Regions from separate parts of the Homo sapiens genome. Here regions 2 and 3 are each reported to be linked to region 1. Evidence: microRNA targets listed by miRTarBase, many of them from high-throughput screens and not tested one by one. Region 1 holds a microRNA gene; each other region holds the end of a gene's coding sequence.
Evidence for each region. Region 1 holds the annotated microRNA hsa-miR-548x-5p (UGCAAAAGUAAUUGCAGUUUUUG, at 3,044-3,066, opposite strand). A microRNA usually pairs through its seed, bases 2 to 8, with sites in the 3' UTR of a target mRNA and lowers its output. Matches are read on the target gene's strand: a 7mer-m8 pairs with bases 2 to 8, a 7mer-A1 pairs with bases 2 to 7 and ends in A, and an 8mer does both.

Region 2: the mRNA of MKX is a reported target of hsa-miR-548x-5p. Seed matches in the 3' UTR shown: 7mer-A1 at 2,209-2,215 and 7mer-m8 at 2,918-2,924.
Region 3: miRTarBase lists CD209 as a target of hsa-miR-548x-5p. Seed matches in the 3' UTR shown: 7mer-A1 at 3,875-3,881.

What each region holds. Positions count from the first base shown.
Region 1 is chr21:18,683,092-18,688,322 of GRCh38, forward strand. It overlaps MIR548X (microRNA 548x), which reads right to left and starts at 3,073; the gene lies at 2,999-3,073. All of the region lies in intron 2 of MIR548XHG (MIR548X host gene), which reads right to left.
Region 2 is chr10:27,670,785-27,676,015 of GRCh38, reverse strand. MKX (mohawk homeobox) reads left to right here. Exons shown (of 7, transcript NM_173576.3): 6 at 462-495; 7 at 601-3,142. The coding sequence ends at 787. Among named protein-coding and RNA genes, the nearest start is that of MKX-AS1, 71 kb to the left of the region's middle.
Region 3 is chr19:7,738,757-7,743,987 of GRCh38, forward strand. It overlaps CD209 (CD209 molecule), which reads right to left. Exons shown (of 7, transcript NM_021155.4): 7 at 1,237-4,484. The coding sequence ends at 4,283. It also overlaps the pseudogene LOC100129391. Among named protein-coding and RNA genes, the nearest start is that of CD209, 6.2 kb to the right of the region's middle. RefSeq lists an enhancer at 4,692-4,791.

The DNA.
Region 1 (5,231 bases):
ATGCCCAAAGTTTTCTGTGTGTATGCACATGTGCACGGGCAGGCATGTGTTTTGGTTGGCCTTCATCCACTGTAAAGCTTTATGTTGTGAAAATTTTCATATATTTTATAATAAGATATTCTGGAAGAAAAATGATGGTAGCTTAGTTTTGAATTTTCCTGCTTCTCTTCTAAAATTTATAGGGGGATGTATTAGTGTCCTAAGACTATCGTAACACGGTATCACAACCTGAATAGTTTAAGCAACAGAAATTCACTGTCTCACTGTTCAGGATGTTAGATGTCTAAGATCAGGTCTCAGCAGTGTTGATTTCTTCTGAGGGCTCTGAGGGAAGAATCTGTTTCAGGCCTTATGCCTGGGCTTTTAGATGGCCATCTTCACCGTGTACTCCTTCACATGGAGATGTGTGTATGTGTGTGTGTGTGTGTGTTTCTCCAAGTTTCCCCCTTTTCAGTCATATTAAATCAGGGCAGAACTTATGATCTCATTTTAACTTGATTACCTCTGTAAGACCCTATCTCCAAATAAGGTCAGTTTCTGAGGTACTGAGGATTATGACTCCAACATATGAATTTCGCCGATGGCACACAATTCAATCCATAACAGGCAAAGTGTTGCATTGCTATGACACAAAGAGACAAGGAGGGAAGAGAACTTAGAAATCACCTAATAAAATGCGCTCCCAGGAAGAAGATGGCATCATATAGCGTAGGAACCAACGTGCTCAAAGCTGAGCTGGAACAATGCATCAGTCAAAGAGTAGACAAACAGAAATGCAGGGTGTGGAAGAGGGAGGAGGAGAAGACAAAAATTTAAAAAAACAGAACTCTAAAATGCCACCATAGTAAGTGTATTAAAATAAAAATTTAAAGCCTCTAACTATGGTAGAATAACCAGATGTGAACTTGTCTGTTTGCCTTACAAAAATAGGAAACAGGATAAAACGTAGAACTAATAAATTGTCAGATATTTTACCATAAGCAGCACAGAACTATGAACTCTAAGAGAAGAGAGAAAATTGATGTAAGTTCGGTTATTACTCTGACTTTCTGTCTGAAGGGATTTTCTTGAACTTGATGCAGAGAGGTATCCAAAGCACAGCATGACAATCTCCTTGATATGAGGAGATAGAGATAGAATTTCAGACAGGTGGGTTTGGCTGGAAAATTGCAGAGCATGTATTAGAAAGAAGTATGATGTACAGACAATGGCTTTTATCTGCTTCAATCTGTTGCACAATGTAAACCACACATGCCGTGGATGAACATCTAGTAATAGTGTATAGAAAATCAAAGATAACTATGTTCACAGATTTCTCATTAGAAAGTATGCCAGGACGGGGCATGGTGGCTCATGCCTGAAATCCCAGCACTTTGGGAGGCCAAGACAGGAGGAATGCTTGACCCCAGGTGTTTGCGACCAGCCTGGCCAATATAGTGAGTCCCAGTCTCTAAAAAAAAAAAAAAAAAAAAAAAAAATTATATATATAGCCAGGCATTGTGGTTTGCGCCTGTAGTCTTGGTTGCTCAGGAGGCTGAGGTGGGAGGATGGCTTGAGTGTGAGAGGTCAAGCAGTGAGCTGTGTTCATGATGCTGCCCTTCAGCCTGTCTGAGATTGAGACTCTGTCTCAAAAAAAAAAAAAAAGAAAGAAAGAAGAGAAAAGAAAAGAAAGCAAAAAGAAAGAAAAAAAAGGAAACTATGCCAGGCAGTAGACAATAAAATATCTTTGAAGTAGGAAGGAAAAATAACCATCAATCTAGAATTTTATATAGAGTAAAATATCTACAACAAATCAAGGTAAAACTGATACTTTTCCCAACAACAAAAGTTAGAGGAATTTATCACTAACTAAATTGAACTAGATGAACTATTACAGTTTTTAAGCAAGGAAGCTGTTATTTGATGGAAGCTAAGGTATACATAATCAAACAATGATTACCAATGTAGAAGTTTCCTTTCATTTTCTGAAACCGTTTTTGGGACATAACACGCTGCTTATACTGTGTGTTTATATGGTACAGTATTATGTTAAAATAAACTAATAACATAAGGATATATATTGTGAACACAAAACAACCATAAAAATAGTTATAGTTGATTAACAGTATTTAAAATGAAATACAAAAATAATAAAAGACTGACAAAGAGCAAGTAAAAAGCAACAACAAAAATAGATGGAATAAGTAATAAGCAAGGACAAAAAAAAAGAACTATTGTTCCTTCTTTCTTTTCCTTTCCTTCTGTGTCACTTTCAGCATAGGTAGTTAAATAATGCAGTAAAGTAACAGAGAAAATAAATTATGTAATAGGGTTCCATGGTTGTTTGTGTTTATTGGAAAGTCACTGCTTGTTTGCAATTGAATTGAGTTCTGGTTTTGAATGGAAAGTGTAGCCTCTTGGAGTTGTCAACCTTGCTCACTCATTTATAGACATAAAATGCTTATCTTGTACTCAGAGTCTTGCTGAACTTTCAAGCACTGTGGGTCCACAAGAATTCTGCGTTCACGTGGCATCACAAACGCTGTATGTGAATAGAACAGTAAGAAACTGAACATGTATATCACAGACATCTCTGCTCACACTTGTACTCAAGTGTCCCATCATACTGCACTTTTAAAACACAGAGGTAAAATTATTTAAAAATTTAAGGCAGTAATAAGAGAGTGTTAAATCAAAAACAGGGCACTTCTGAGCATGAAATCTTGTATGACTGTACAAGGTACAGTGCATGAAGCTGGCCCTACATGAACAAAACGAATTATTTCCTTCTAAGTTCTAGAACAAAGTAGAGATATCCAGTCTAACCACTGAAATTCAATATTGCATCAACATTCTTGCCAATGCAATATGAGAAAGATAAAAATTAATACAACACATGCCATTAGTAACAACGTTAAAAACATGAACACAGGAATAAACTTAGCATAATGTATGCCATACCTGTTTACTGAAATCTTCAAAACTTTGCTGAGAAAAATAAAACAAGATCGAAATATTAAGATTGGTGTGAAAGTAATTGCAGTTTTTACGATTGAAAGTAACGCAAAAACTGCAATTACTTTTGCACTAACCTAATATATTGCAATGTATAATGTGATTACAGATTGGAAGGCTTAATGTTGTTATGATAGTATCTCTCCCCAAATTGATCTATATGTTCAATGCATATTTAAAAAACAATTGTAGCAAAGTTCTTTGTAGAAATTGTTAAGCTAATTCTAAATTTTATATGGAAATCCAAAGGACATATTATATACAAAATGATTTCTAGGAAGAAGAACAAAATTAGATGAGCAGCACCTTTTTCTTCCAAGACTCCCTATATACTCCTTTTAGGCACCAGTCATAGAGGTAGTATGGCTGAGGTTTACAACTGGATGTATAGATAATGGAACAGAATAGAAAATCCAGAAACATGTCATTTTTTATGTGCTTAAATTTTTGAAAGTATTTCCATGGTTATTCAATGAGAAAAATTATAGTCTTTTAAACAATTTTATCCCAGAGGGAATGTAAGTATATTTAAAGACAAAAAAGAAACCTTAACTTATAACATGTCTGCACATGCTCATATACAAGAGGTATACAAGAATAGATGGAAGAGGAGTAAGATAAAAATACCAATTAAGGCCTTTGGACTAACAAGTGATGGAGTCTTTTTTTCCTGCCACTAACACTTTTCGTATAACTTTTTCCCCTAGAAATTGTAACTAGCCACAATTTGAAAATTAGAGATTGACAGTGAAGTGTATTAGTCAGTTTTCATACTGCTGATAAAGACATACCCAAGACTGTGTACTTTATAAAAAAGAAGAGGTTTAATGGACTCACAGTTCCAGGTGGCTAGGGAGGACTCACGAACATGGAGAAGGCTAAAGGCACGTCTTACATGGTGGCAGACAAGAGAGAATGTAGACAGACAAGTCTACATTGTCTTGGCAGACAAGTGAAAGAGGAAATAAATCTTCAGATCTCGTGAGACTTATTCACTAACAGGAGAACAGTATAGGAGAAACCATCTCCATGATTCAATTATCTGCCATGAGTCCCTCCCACAACACGTGAGAATTATGGGAGCTACAATTCAAGATGAGATTTGGGTGGGGATGCAGTCAAACCATATTAGTAAGTCTCCCCTGCATTATGGTGTACTGTTAGTGTGTCACTCATATCATATCAGATTCCTTAAACATTTGTTTGCATAAAGTCCCCATGTAATTCTATTCCCCATAGTAAGTACCTGCTTCTCTAGCACCATGTACTATGTACTATGCACAAGTAGCCAGAATCAGATTTGTCTACAGAATTGGAGAACTATTATCTCCGAACTTTTGTTCTCCTGCTAACAGCTCTTAAACATTGAGAGATGTGTGTAGAGGCTTAAATACTCCAAGCGCTTTTTCTCTAATCAGGAATAGACTATTTTTGAAGGATTGAGTAAAAGCTGTTCTTTGCAGGACTTTTCTATTATCATACTCATTTTTGGACTCCTCTCATGTCCTGTCTCATTTCCCCATGTGGTTATCAACTTGTCTAGGGATAATGTAAAATAACACATATCATGCTGGTCTCAGGACAAAACTCCATTTATTACAGTTGGTGCAAAACAGTCAGATTTTATGCCTATGATGCTGGTATAATTATTATACCATGATATTGACCCATTTCACTCCAAAACCCCTTCTAGTTTGTATAATAATTTATACAGTCATCATTTTATAATGTGAAATAGTCACAACCACAACCACATTCTACCCAGGAGAGAGAGTGTAGAAAAATCTATGATAATTTAGGAAAGAAAGAGTCAGACAAAGCAGGTGCTCTTGAAGTTTAAAAACAAAACACATTTTGAACATGCAAGAAACTTTGTGAATACTGTTTGCGGAAGCCTCCTTGACAACATTATGAGGGGATGAACTCCAGGTGGAAAGGAGTAATTGCTATTTAACAAATAAATGAAAGAAAGGCTAAAGTTGACAGAATAGATTATATATTGTATATGCTCTGATAATGTGGAAATAATTCATCTAACACAAAACGGAACAGATGGCTTTGATAAGAAGATAAAAAATAAAGTTAGTTTTCTGATTACATCATCGTAATTGCTAGATGTCAAAGGGTATTATTTAAAGCTACAAATCAAATAGTAAAAGATCAAGTCTATTTAAGGAAACAATGAAAAACACTCGAAAGTTATTGATATCTATTAAATGTGGGTGATGGTATCCTGG
Region 2 (5,231 bases), not on the chromosome of region 1:
TACAGATATGAGCCACTGTGCCCAGCCAAAGCTCCCTGATTTTATAGTTAGAGAACTGAATCCCTGACATTGTGGGAGGTCATAATCTGCCCCCAGGTTACACTGCAAGTGGGTAGTAGGGCAAGGCCAGAACCTGGCCCCAGGTACAGTCAGCACTCTTTTCCTTATGCTGTTTGTCTCCTGATCCAAAAGGCCCAATTTCTCAGAGTAAATAACTTCAGATTTTTGTGTATCTATGAGAGCTACCTTTTATTCTTTACTACCCACTGTCATCTTACTTCTGCCCCTTTGCAATTTTTTTTGCATCTTAATATAAACTGCTTTATCTTTATTAAAAGCGAACTAATTTTCAACCATATTTCCTGAAGAACTTTTACTTCTGGTCATTAGTGATGAAACTCCTGAGATGAGAAAAGAAAGGAAAAACATAAAAATAATTGAATTTTTGCTTTTCTTTACAGACACTCTGGAAAACGGATCCAATAAGGGTGAAAGGTGAGCAAAATGTTCCCATTGGCCGTTCCTGCTTTTCAGCGATGGCATTTTCAATGCAAACTGCAGTGAGTTTGATCGTTTACTTTCTGTTTTGCTTAACTCCAGCGCAGCTAACAGAAAAGGACCAAGCAAGGATGACACGTATTGGAAGGAGATCAACGCAGCTATGGCCTTAACAAATCTTGCACAGGGAAAGGACAAACTGCAGGGAACTACCAGCTGCATCATCCAGAAGTCGTCCCATATAGCAGAAGTAAAGACTGTCAAAGTGCCGCTGGTGCAGCAGTTTTAAGAGCTTGTTGCTTTTCAGATCCAATGGATGTTCTTTCCGGTGTTTTCATCAACCCTCATCCTAAGAGCCGAAGCAGGGATGAAAATGACTCTCTCCCAAACCTCTTCTTATTTTTAATTATCCCAAATATATCATTTAGTTGCTTCTATAAAAGACATATAAATTATAAAAAACTCATTTTAATCAAAAATATTAACTTATTTTATGTTACTCAAACTATGCATAAAACATCTGCATTACCATTACAGTAAGTGCCTTGCTTCCCGACAATAAGCTCCAACGTGGGCATAGTTGAACAAGCTATGCCTCAAAATGCCAACGCCATATGCTTATTAGCCTGTGTGCATCATTCCAGACGGGCCTAATCATTCCAGGACTGAAACCAGAATCGCTGAAAGCCCTTGAAATACATTCAATAATTCATATGTTAAAACTTGGATATCTGTTCAGCCCAAATGAAATCTTCCTTTTAAAAAACGTCTACATTATTGAAAATTGTTCAATGTGCTTTTCAGAGTGACGGTGAGAATTTTATGCATGTATCTTGCCTGCATATTTGATATGTTACAAACTTCCAAAATTCAAGGTGCAGCGATCCACAGAACGTTGTACATTTAAGAAGTGATTCCTTCAAGCTAATTTAAAATTTCATTGAACACATGGTGACCAGGAAAACTTTTTTTCAAGCACTGTTGGAAAGCACCACAAAGCCCTTTAGAATTAATCTGGATTTGTTTCTCAAGTTCTGCTGAAGTTTAAAAAAAAACTTTATTATACAAATAACTCAAAATTTTCCTGTGTAAAACTAAACCTGTAGTTTTAAAACATAATCCTGTTTGCATTAGAGCTCACTGTCTTTTTGTGATGGAAACTGTGTTCGTATGGAATGACTAAAAATCTTTTATTTGGTTTGTTTCAAATTACAATTGCTGATGGACAATTTGTATTGCAGCGAGAACAACAGAATGAAAGAAATGTATCTCTGTGCGGCTATACATATACATACATAAAATTGATTTTTAAATTTAAAACATATGGAAAACAAAACATTGAACAGTTTGAATTTTGCCAAGTTGGACATTAAAGTAAAAATGAAGTGAAATCATGCATTGAAAGAAAACATTTTGTTTCTAAATTAGTCTACCATTGAGTGAGAATAATCAATATCAAGAAAGAAGACTATCTTTCTCAACTAAACAATAATATTCCAATCAGCTTGGGAAGACCTGAAACTTGAATAAGCAGTGGAAATGCCAAATATAACAGAGGGTATGTGCTACAGAGAAGTAAAAAGGGTTTGACTTTTTATGATGGGATTTTTTTTTTCTGGGTATGTAATCTATTTTTTTTTTAAACTGGAAAGCATTTTTGTCAGTGTGAATGAGGGTCAATAGTGCAGCCAGTGGTGACATTTTTCTTTATTTTGCAAAATGCTTTTAAAACCAAAGGCTGCTCTAGTTGATGGACAGTATCAGTCTTGATCTAAATTGTAGGACACTTTTTCATGTAACATAACATTTGGGGATTGGGTTTATTTAGTGTAATGAAGATAATTTGATATAAAAATATTTTGTGTATATATATATATTTTTACTTTGTTTTCTAAATTGCTGTTTGCAGTAACAGTAAGCGCAAAGCAAAATATATAAGTTATGACTGTATGATCAGATGAAGTATGAGTTCTTTTGGTTTGCATCCTTAAATAGTTAGAGATCTCTGATAAAAACTTTGGAATCTTTGCAAAACAATACAAAAATGCCAAAATGTGAGCATGTCAATGAAAACTAAAGACAAATACTTCACTCTTTTTCATACTATTATAAGTTATTCTGGTATTAAATATGTTAATAAAAGTGTTTTTGTTTTGACATATTTCAGTTAAATGAATGAATGCTGGTTGTATTTTATTTGAATGAGTCATGATTCATGTTTGCCATCTTTTTAAAAAAATCAGCAAATTTCTTCTATGTTATAAATTATAGATGACAAGGCAATATAGGACAACTATTCACATGATTTTTTTTAATACCAAAGGTTGGAAGATTTTATAATTAACATGTCAAGAAGACTTTATAGTAAGCACATCCTTGGTAATATCTCCAATTGCAATGACTTTTTAATTTATTTTTTCTTTTGCTGCTTTAACATTTTCTGGATATTAAAATCCCCCCAGTCCTTTAAAAGAATCTTGAACAATGCTGAGCCGGCAGCTGAAAATCTAACTCATAATTTATGTTGTAGAGAAATAGAATTACCTCTATTCTTTGTTTTGCCATATGTAATCATTTTAATAAAATTAATAACTGCCAGGAGTTCTTGACAGATTTAAAATAAAAGTTAATTTCTAGACCTCGATGATCGTATGGATTTTGTTTTCCTTTGAGAGCTGACCAGGTAGATGAAGCAGTAGAACAGACGGGCCCATTATATTCAGCAATTCTCCTTAGACTGTTAAGGGATATGATATGGGAGTGCTGCATTTGTATTAGGTTTGAATTTCATCACCTTAGGCCACCAATCCAGCTTTCAAAGACTGAGGAAAAGGGAGTGTGATGCCGACTATTAAAATACCTAACTTTAAAATGAACATTTTCAGGTAATACCTTCTTTCCCTCACTAATACAATTAGCATTATTTGTGGTGTGCTCTGCACTGGAGAGAAAACCTTGGCTTTGAAGCTAGACAGAACTACCTTTGAATCTCAGCTCTGTCCCTTACTACTTAGTCATTCTTATCTAGTTTCTTCATCTGCAAAGTGGGAGTAAGGAGCTATACCTTGTAGGGTTTGCACTAAGATTGAGATAAAATGCAATACATAAAGTGCCTACCTCAGTGTCTGTCAGATAATAGGTGCTTGGTAACTGGAACATATTATTGCATAGTTACAATTCCTCTATTCAGGCTTTATGCACAAGAAAGTAGAAATATTTAAAATAAATGGAACATAAGACATGGGTAGTTTAATGGACAGCTGTAGAGAGGGAGAGATGCCTGACAAGAAAAGCTGCTGTGCAATGGTGAAAATTGGTATCAGAGTTAGAAAGGCCTTCAAGGAAGATCATTTTAGCATCATCACTTAAAACTTCCAGGCAAAAAGCATAAAGCGTTGCGAAGCCAAGGCAGAACAGACATTCCAACAGAAAACACGATATGTGCTGTCACTTCCTTCTTTGGGATAAACAAGAATTGCTTTCCCTCTGTTTGTCCTGCTTGATACTGTTCAAGATGGCTAAGAAAAACTCAAGCTGCTGCCTGTGTTCTCCGTCTGCTCCAAGTAGCAATGTTTAACAAACAGTGGCAACAGCCATAGCCTGCTTTTAAACTTATCCAGCTCAGTGGTGTCACAGCATGCAAATAAACACAGAGAAGAAGAGCAAGCCACCCATGCTGTCCTGCCAGGGATGGCATAGGAAAGTCATGCCTTGGAAGGCGGTGTGTTGTGGTGGTAAGAACCTGGGCTGGCATGCTCTGGCTTTGCTACTTCACTTCTTAGTACCTTTGGGAAATAAGCATAAGCCTTCTTTCTATACCCATTGTTTGCACCTATAAAATTAGACCTGTGAAATTTACCTACTCCAACGATCTGTTGTGGGGAGTCAATGAGGCAGTCGATATAAAAGCACTTCGCAAACTGCATGGCACTGTACAAATGTTAGCGATTATGACCGTATTCCACGCAGCCCTAAAAGGCCTCATGTCTCACACTTTCTGGCACTGTAAACTGTAGTTTCCATGAAGCATATAGGACCCCTAGATTCTGTCAAATGTGTGTTAGGGTCACCATCATTGGGTCCTTGTGAGCACTAAGAACTTCTTGGTCCTGTTTTTTTTGTTTTTTTTTTTTCTTCTTGAGATGGAGTCTTACTCTGTCGCCCAGGCTGGAGTGCAGTGGTGCGACCTCGGCTCACTGCAGCCTCTGCCCCCCCAGGTTCAAGCGATTCTCCTGCCTCAGCCTCCCGAGTAGTACAGGCATGTGCCACCACACCTGCCTAATTTTTTAGTTTTAATAGAGACAGGGTTTCACCATCTTGGCCAGGCTGGTTTCGAACTCCCGACCTCAGGTGATCCACCCGCCTCAGCCTCTCAAAGTGCTGAGATTACAGGCGTAAGCCACCGTGCCCAGTCAGTCCTGCTCTTCTTTGTAACCATTATGATTGGAATTAGAAGATAGATTGCCACACTGCAGGAGTAGAATCCTGACTTCACCACTCCGAGCTTTGAGACCCATCTTAGAGATGGACTAAAACTTTGGTTTGGGAGAAGTGTGAATTGGCCACAATAAACTTTTTCTCTCAAGGAGAGGAAAAACAGATTTCTGAGTTTGGAAACAAAAAAAAAGCTGAGGTGTTTTTACATTTTGTACAAATGACTCCATGCGAATTCACCCCAGGTAAGATGGTCTCACTAGGTCTTCTACAACAAATTTTAGTCCAAAGCCAGTTTC
Region 3 (5,231 bases), not on the chromosome of region 1:
AGAGGTTATACTCTTTAGTTGGGAATAAATAGCAAAGCTACAAGTGGGGACAGTAACCTCTTGAGATGGGAAAACGGGGACGGAATGAGCTTTAGTTTTCACTGTAGAGATTGATACGTTTTGGTTCTGTGTGCACACGTGACTTATTCCACAAGTAAATGAAAACCTTTAAAGCCAGAGTAGACTCAAAAATCATCCAAAAATTGCACAAGAATACCTGAGAACATTTTGATAGAGAAGAGCCATGACCAGGCAGGCCACAGCGGCCCAGGCCTGTAAACTCAGCACTTTGGGAGGCTGAGGCAGGAGGATGAGTTGAGCCCGGGAGTTCAAGAACAGCATGGGCAACACAGTGAGACCCCATCTCTACAAAAAATTTTTTAAAAGTAGCTAGATATGGTGATGCACACGTGTGGTCCCAGCTACTCAGGAGGCTGAGGTGGGAGGATCACTGGAGCCCATGAGGTCAAGGCTGCAGTGAGCCATGATTGCACCACTGCACTTCAGCCTGGGTGACAGAGCAAGACCTTGTCTCCCACATAAAAGGAGCCATGCCTGGTAGTTATCAAAATATAAGCTTGGCTTGGGTTTCCCCTACTAAAGAGCTTGAGACAAGGATTTGGATATAAGTAGCTTATCTGGGAGGAGATTCCAAGAAGCATCAGCAGGGGATGGGAAGAATGAAGAGGAGCAGGTAGGGAAAGGAAGGAACCCAATACAAAGGCACCAATGAGCTGAAAAGGGCAATTGGGTCCAATCCCCCTGGGAGCCTCTGGGAGACGACATAGAACAAGCCTCACAGTTCCTCTGCCTGTTGAAGGTCAACTCTTAAGTAAGACGGAATTTAGCTTGCAAGCTGTTTATGAAGGTGCATCTTTGGGGTCAACATCAGTAGAAAGGAAGTGATGTTTGTGGTGTCTTATTTACACCAAAGAAATTCTCTAATTCTAACACTAGCTTCCTGGAGTTAGCACCACATTCCACAAATTAAAGGGCTAGGTCCCAAAAGACTGACCCTGCTTCAGATGCCAGGTGCAAAGACAGTCTTTGCACTGTCTACCCACACTTCTGCCAGGCTGGCAAAAAATTGTGGCTTCCCATAAGTCCATCTCAAGTTCAGTAATTTCCTAGAATGATTTAGAGAACTCGGGAAAACATTTTGCTTATGTTGTTGCCGAACTAAATTGGGTCAGTTCCCTGGCTCACAGTGGAAAACCAAACACTGAAGCACTGGGGTTTTGTAGAGAGAAAAATTTATTGCAAGGCAGCCAAGCAAGGACACAGGAGTCTGGCCCAAATCTGTCTCTCCAAGTTGGAGGCTGGGGCAGATTTTATATACAGAGGGTAGTGAGGCATGATATGATTGGATCTTGTAATGAGGGGATTCAGGAGGCTTGATCTGACTGGATCACGCCAGGGCTCAATCTGATTGGATCAAGGATCATGCCACGTGGTGTCCACTTCTTAACTCAGTCCCTGTTCCTCGGTCTGAGCACTTAGGTTCCACGTGGATTTGCACGCTTCGTTCATCTGGACATGCCCAGGGTATGTAACTTGCAACCTGGGGGTCCACGACAACTGAAAAACAACTCGCCATTTTATTACACAAAGTTGAACCAGATTGGGCTGAATCTGCGGTTACAATGTTTACCAGTTTATTATAAAGGATACAACTAGAGGGGCGGGGCGGTGCCGGCAAGATGGCTGCGCCCGAAAAGGTGACATTTCCAGAGAAACCAAGCCACAAAAAGTACAGGGCCGCCCTGAAGAAGGAGAAACGAAAGAAACGCCAGCAGGAACTTGCTCCACTGAGGGACTCAGGACTCTCACAGAAAGAGGAGGACACTTTTATTGAAAAACAACAACTAGAAAAGCTATGGGGAAGAGAGAGGCAAAGATTACATGAGGAGTGGTTGCTGAGAGAGCAGAAGGCACAAGAAGAATTCAGAATAAAGAAGGAAAAGGAAGAGGTGGCTAGAAAACGGCAAGAACAAGAGCGAAAGTTAAAGGAACAATGGGAAGAACAGCAGAGGAAAGAGAGAGAGGAGGAGGAACAGAAACGACAGAAGAAACAAAAACCGGAAGCTGTCCAGAAGATGCTGGATCAGGCTGAAAATGAGTTGGAAAATGGCGCCACATGGCAAAACCCGGAACCCCCCCTTGGATTTCAGAGTCATGGAGAAGGATGGAGTTAATTGTCCCTTCTACAGTAAAACAGGAGCTTGCAGATTTGGAGATAGATGTTCACATGATTTCCCAACATCCAGTCCTACCCTTCTTATTAAAAGCATGTTTACAGTGTTTGGAAAGGAGCAGTGCAGGAGGGATGACTATGACTCCGAAGCAAGCCTGGAGTACAGCGAGGAAGAAACCTACCAACAGTTCCTAGATTTCTGTGAGGATGTGCTGCCCGAGTTCAAGAACGTGGGGAGAGACTGGGCGCGGTGGCTCAGGCCTGTAATCCCAGCACTTTGGGAGGACGCGGCGGGCGAATCACGAGGTCAAGAGATCGAGACCATCCTGGTCAACATGTTGAAACCCCGTCTCTACCAAAAATACAAGAATTAGCTGGGCGCAGTGGTGCACGCCCAGCTAATTTTTGTACTTTTAGTGGAGTCCCAGCTACTCGGGAGGCTGAGGCAGGAGAATCGCTTGAACCCGGGAGGCGGAAGTTGCAGTGAGCCTAGATCGCGCCACTGCACTCCAGCCTGGCGACAGAGCAAGACCCCATCTTTAAAAAAAAATAGTAATTAAAAAATAACGTGGGGAGAGTGATTCAGTTCAAGGTCAGTTGCAACTTGGAACCTCACCTGAGGGGCAAGTATATATGTTCAGTACCAGTCGGAAGAAGAATGCCAAGCAGCTCTTTCTCTGTTTAACGGACGATGGTATGTACGCAGGACGACAGCTTCAGTGTGAATTCTGCCCAGTGGCTCGGTGGAAAATGATGATTTGTGGTTTATTTGAAATACAACAATGTCCAAGAGGAAAACACTGCAACTTTCTTCAGGTGTTGAGAAATCCAATAGAGACCTCTGCTTGTCTCCTCCTTTGGCAAGAGCTCCAAGGGGAGAGAGAGGGTGGGCCACCACGATGAATACTACAGGCTGCGGGGAAGGAGAACCCTAGTCCAGACCATTCCTACAAAAGAAATGGGGAATCCGAAAGGAAAAGGAAGAAATCTCACTAGCACATGTCAAAGAGCCAGGAGAGGCACAATTCACCTAGCAGAGGAAGAAATAGTGACCGCAGCGGGGGCCGGTGCAGCCGCAGTGAGAACGGCCGGAGCCGTCACAGCCGGAGCCAAAGCTCCTCTAGATCCCAAAGTCGTGGTAGGAGGAGATCAGGTAGTAGAGACAGAACTGTTCAGAGTCCCAAATCCCAATAAACCTGTTTTATTCTTACAAAAAATAATAGGCCAGGCGCGGTGGCTCACACCTGTAATCCCAGCAATTTTGGGAGGCCGAGGCGGGCAGATCATCTGAGGTCGGGAGTTCAAGACCAGCCTGACCAACACGGAGAAACCCCATCTGTACTAAAAATACAAAAAATTAGCCGGGTCTGGTGGCGCCTGCCTGTAATTCCAGCTACTCGTGAGGCTGAGGCAGGAGAATCACTTGAACCCGGGAGGCAGAGGTTGCAGTGAGCCAAGATCGCGCCATGGCACTCCAGCCTGAGCGACAAGAGTGAAACTCCATCTCGAAAAATAGTAATAATAATAATAAAATAAAGAATACAACTTAGAAACAGCCAAATGGAAGCCATGTATAAGACAAAGGAAGATGTGGGGGTGGAAGGGGTTGCGTGGAGCCTCCATGCCCTCTCTGGGTGCCATTGGTTGACTGGGGGAATTAATTCCCTGGTGCTTCCAGCCTGCAAAATGAGCTCTTGCAACCAGTAAGTCCCCGATCAAAGGGGTGCAGGAGGTGGTAGGTGGAAGTTGAACAGATGGTAGGTTTGCATGTATAAGATAACGCCCCAGGGGACATAGCAGCTACACATGGCAACCCAAATATCCTAATCTCCAAAAGGAAGAGAGAGTGGATTCTTGGAACACAAGTCCACCCCCAAAGGCATCCCACACCAGCTCACTCATAAAGCTCCAAGGATGGGCCAGAAAAACAAGCTCTACACCAGGGGAAATTGGAGGCATGACAAGAAGGACAGAATGGGACCCAGCCTTCTAAAGGAGGAAGAATCTGACAAAGAACAGTCCCAGAGATTTTGTGAAGGTCGAAGGATGGAGAGAAGGAACTGTAGCTTAAAAGGGGGTGAAGTTCTGCTACGCAGGAGGGGGGTTTGGGGTGGCAGGGGCTGGAGAAAGAAACTGTTCTTCATCCCTGGAGCAGGAGGCTGCGGACTTTTTGCAGATCCAGAATTTGGCAAGATTACATTTGTCGTCGTTCCAGCCATTGCCACTAAATTCCGCGCAGTCTTCCTCCCCAACGTTGTTGGGCTCTCCTCTGTTCCAATACTGCTTGAAGCTGCAAAGCCCATGCGGAATGTGAGCCTCTGTCCCCGCCAGCTACATGAGCTGTGTTTCTACCTTCTGTCATCTTGATGCCTTAACATCTGCCCTGCGTGTGTATGCTGGACTTGAATCCCTCTGCATACCTGATAATATGCCTGACTCACGATGCCTTGAGTTCCTGCCTCTCTTCTCACAACCTGTCCTTGGGTGGACTCCACCTATTGAGTGTGTGATTTTCAAATACAAGCCAACCAGTCTGGAGTCCACACCTCCAGCGACCTGCCTTACTGGGCTCTTGTACTCCAAGCCACTATCCTGTACTAATCACCCCAAGGCCAGGTGTCAGACAGCGAGGGGCAGCCCCTGTGCCCCAGAGCCCAAAAAATGCTTCACACTTCCCAATCCTAAGCCTGTTCACCTGGCCTTGACCTTTCCTTTCCACAGAAACCATAATAAAGGCTCTGGCCCACAGTCCCCCCTCCCCACCACTCTGACTCATAACAGACCCTGGTGCTTCCCCAGGTGGCCCCCAGCTGTGATGTGTCCTCTCTCTAGGGATCTGTGTATATGAGAAGCTATTCACAATGGCAGGTGTCTCCTGAGCTGGTGGCCTTACTGGACCTCAGACTTCCTATTAATACATTATATTTTAATACACCTCCCCGGTGGCAGGCTCCTCCTGCAGCTCTGCTGGTGGAATTCTAGGCACCTGCCATGCTGTCTGGAAGTGGGTATGAAGACCACCTTCCTCAACTCAGTA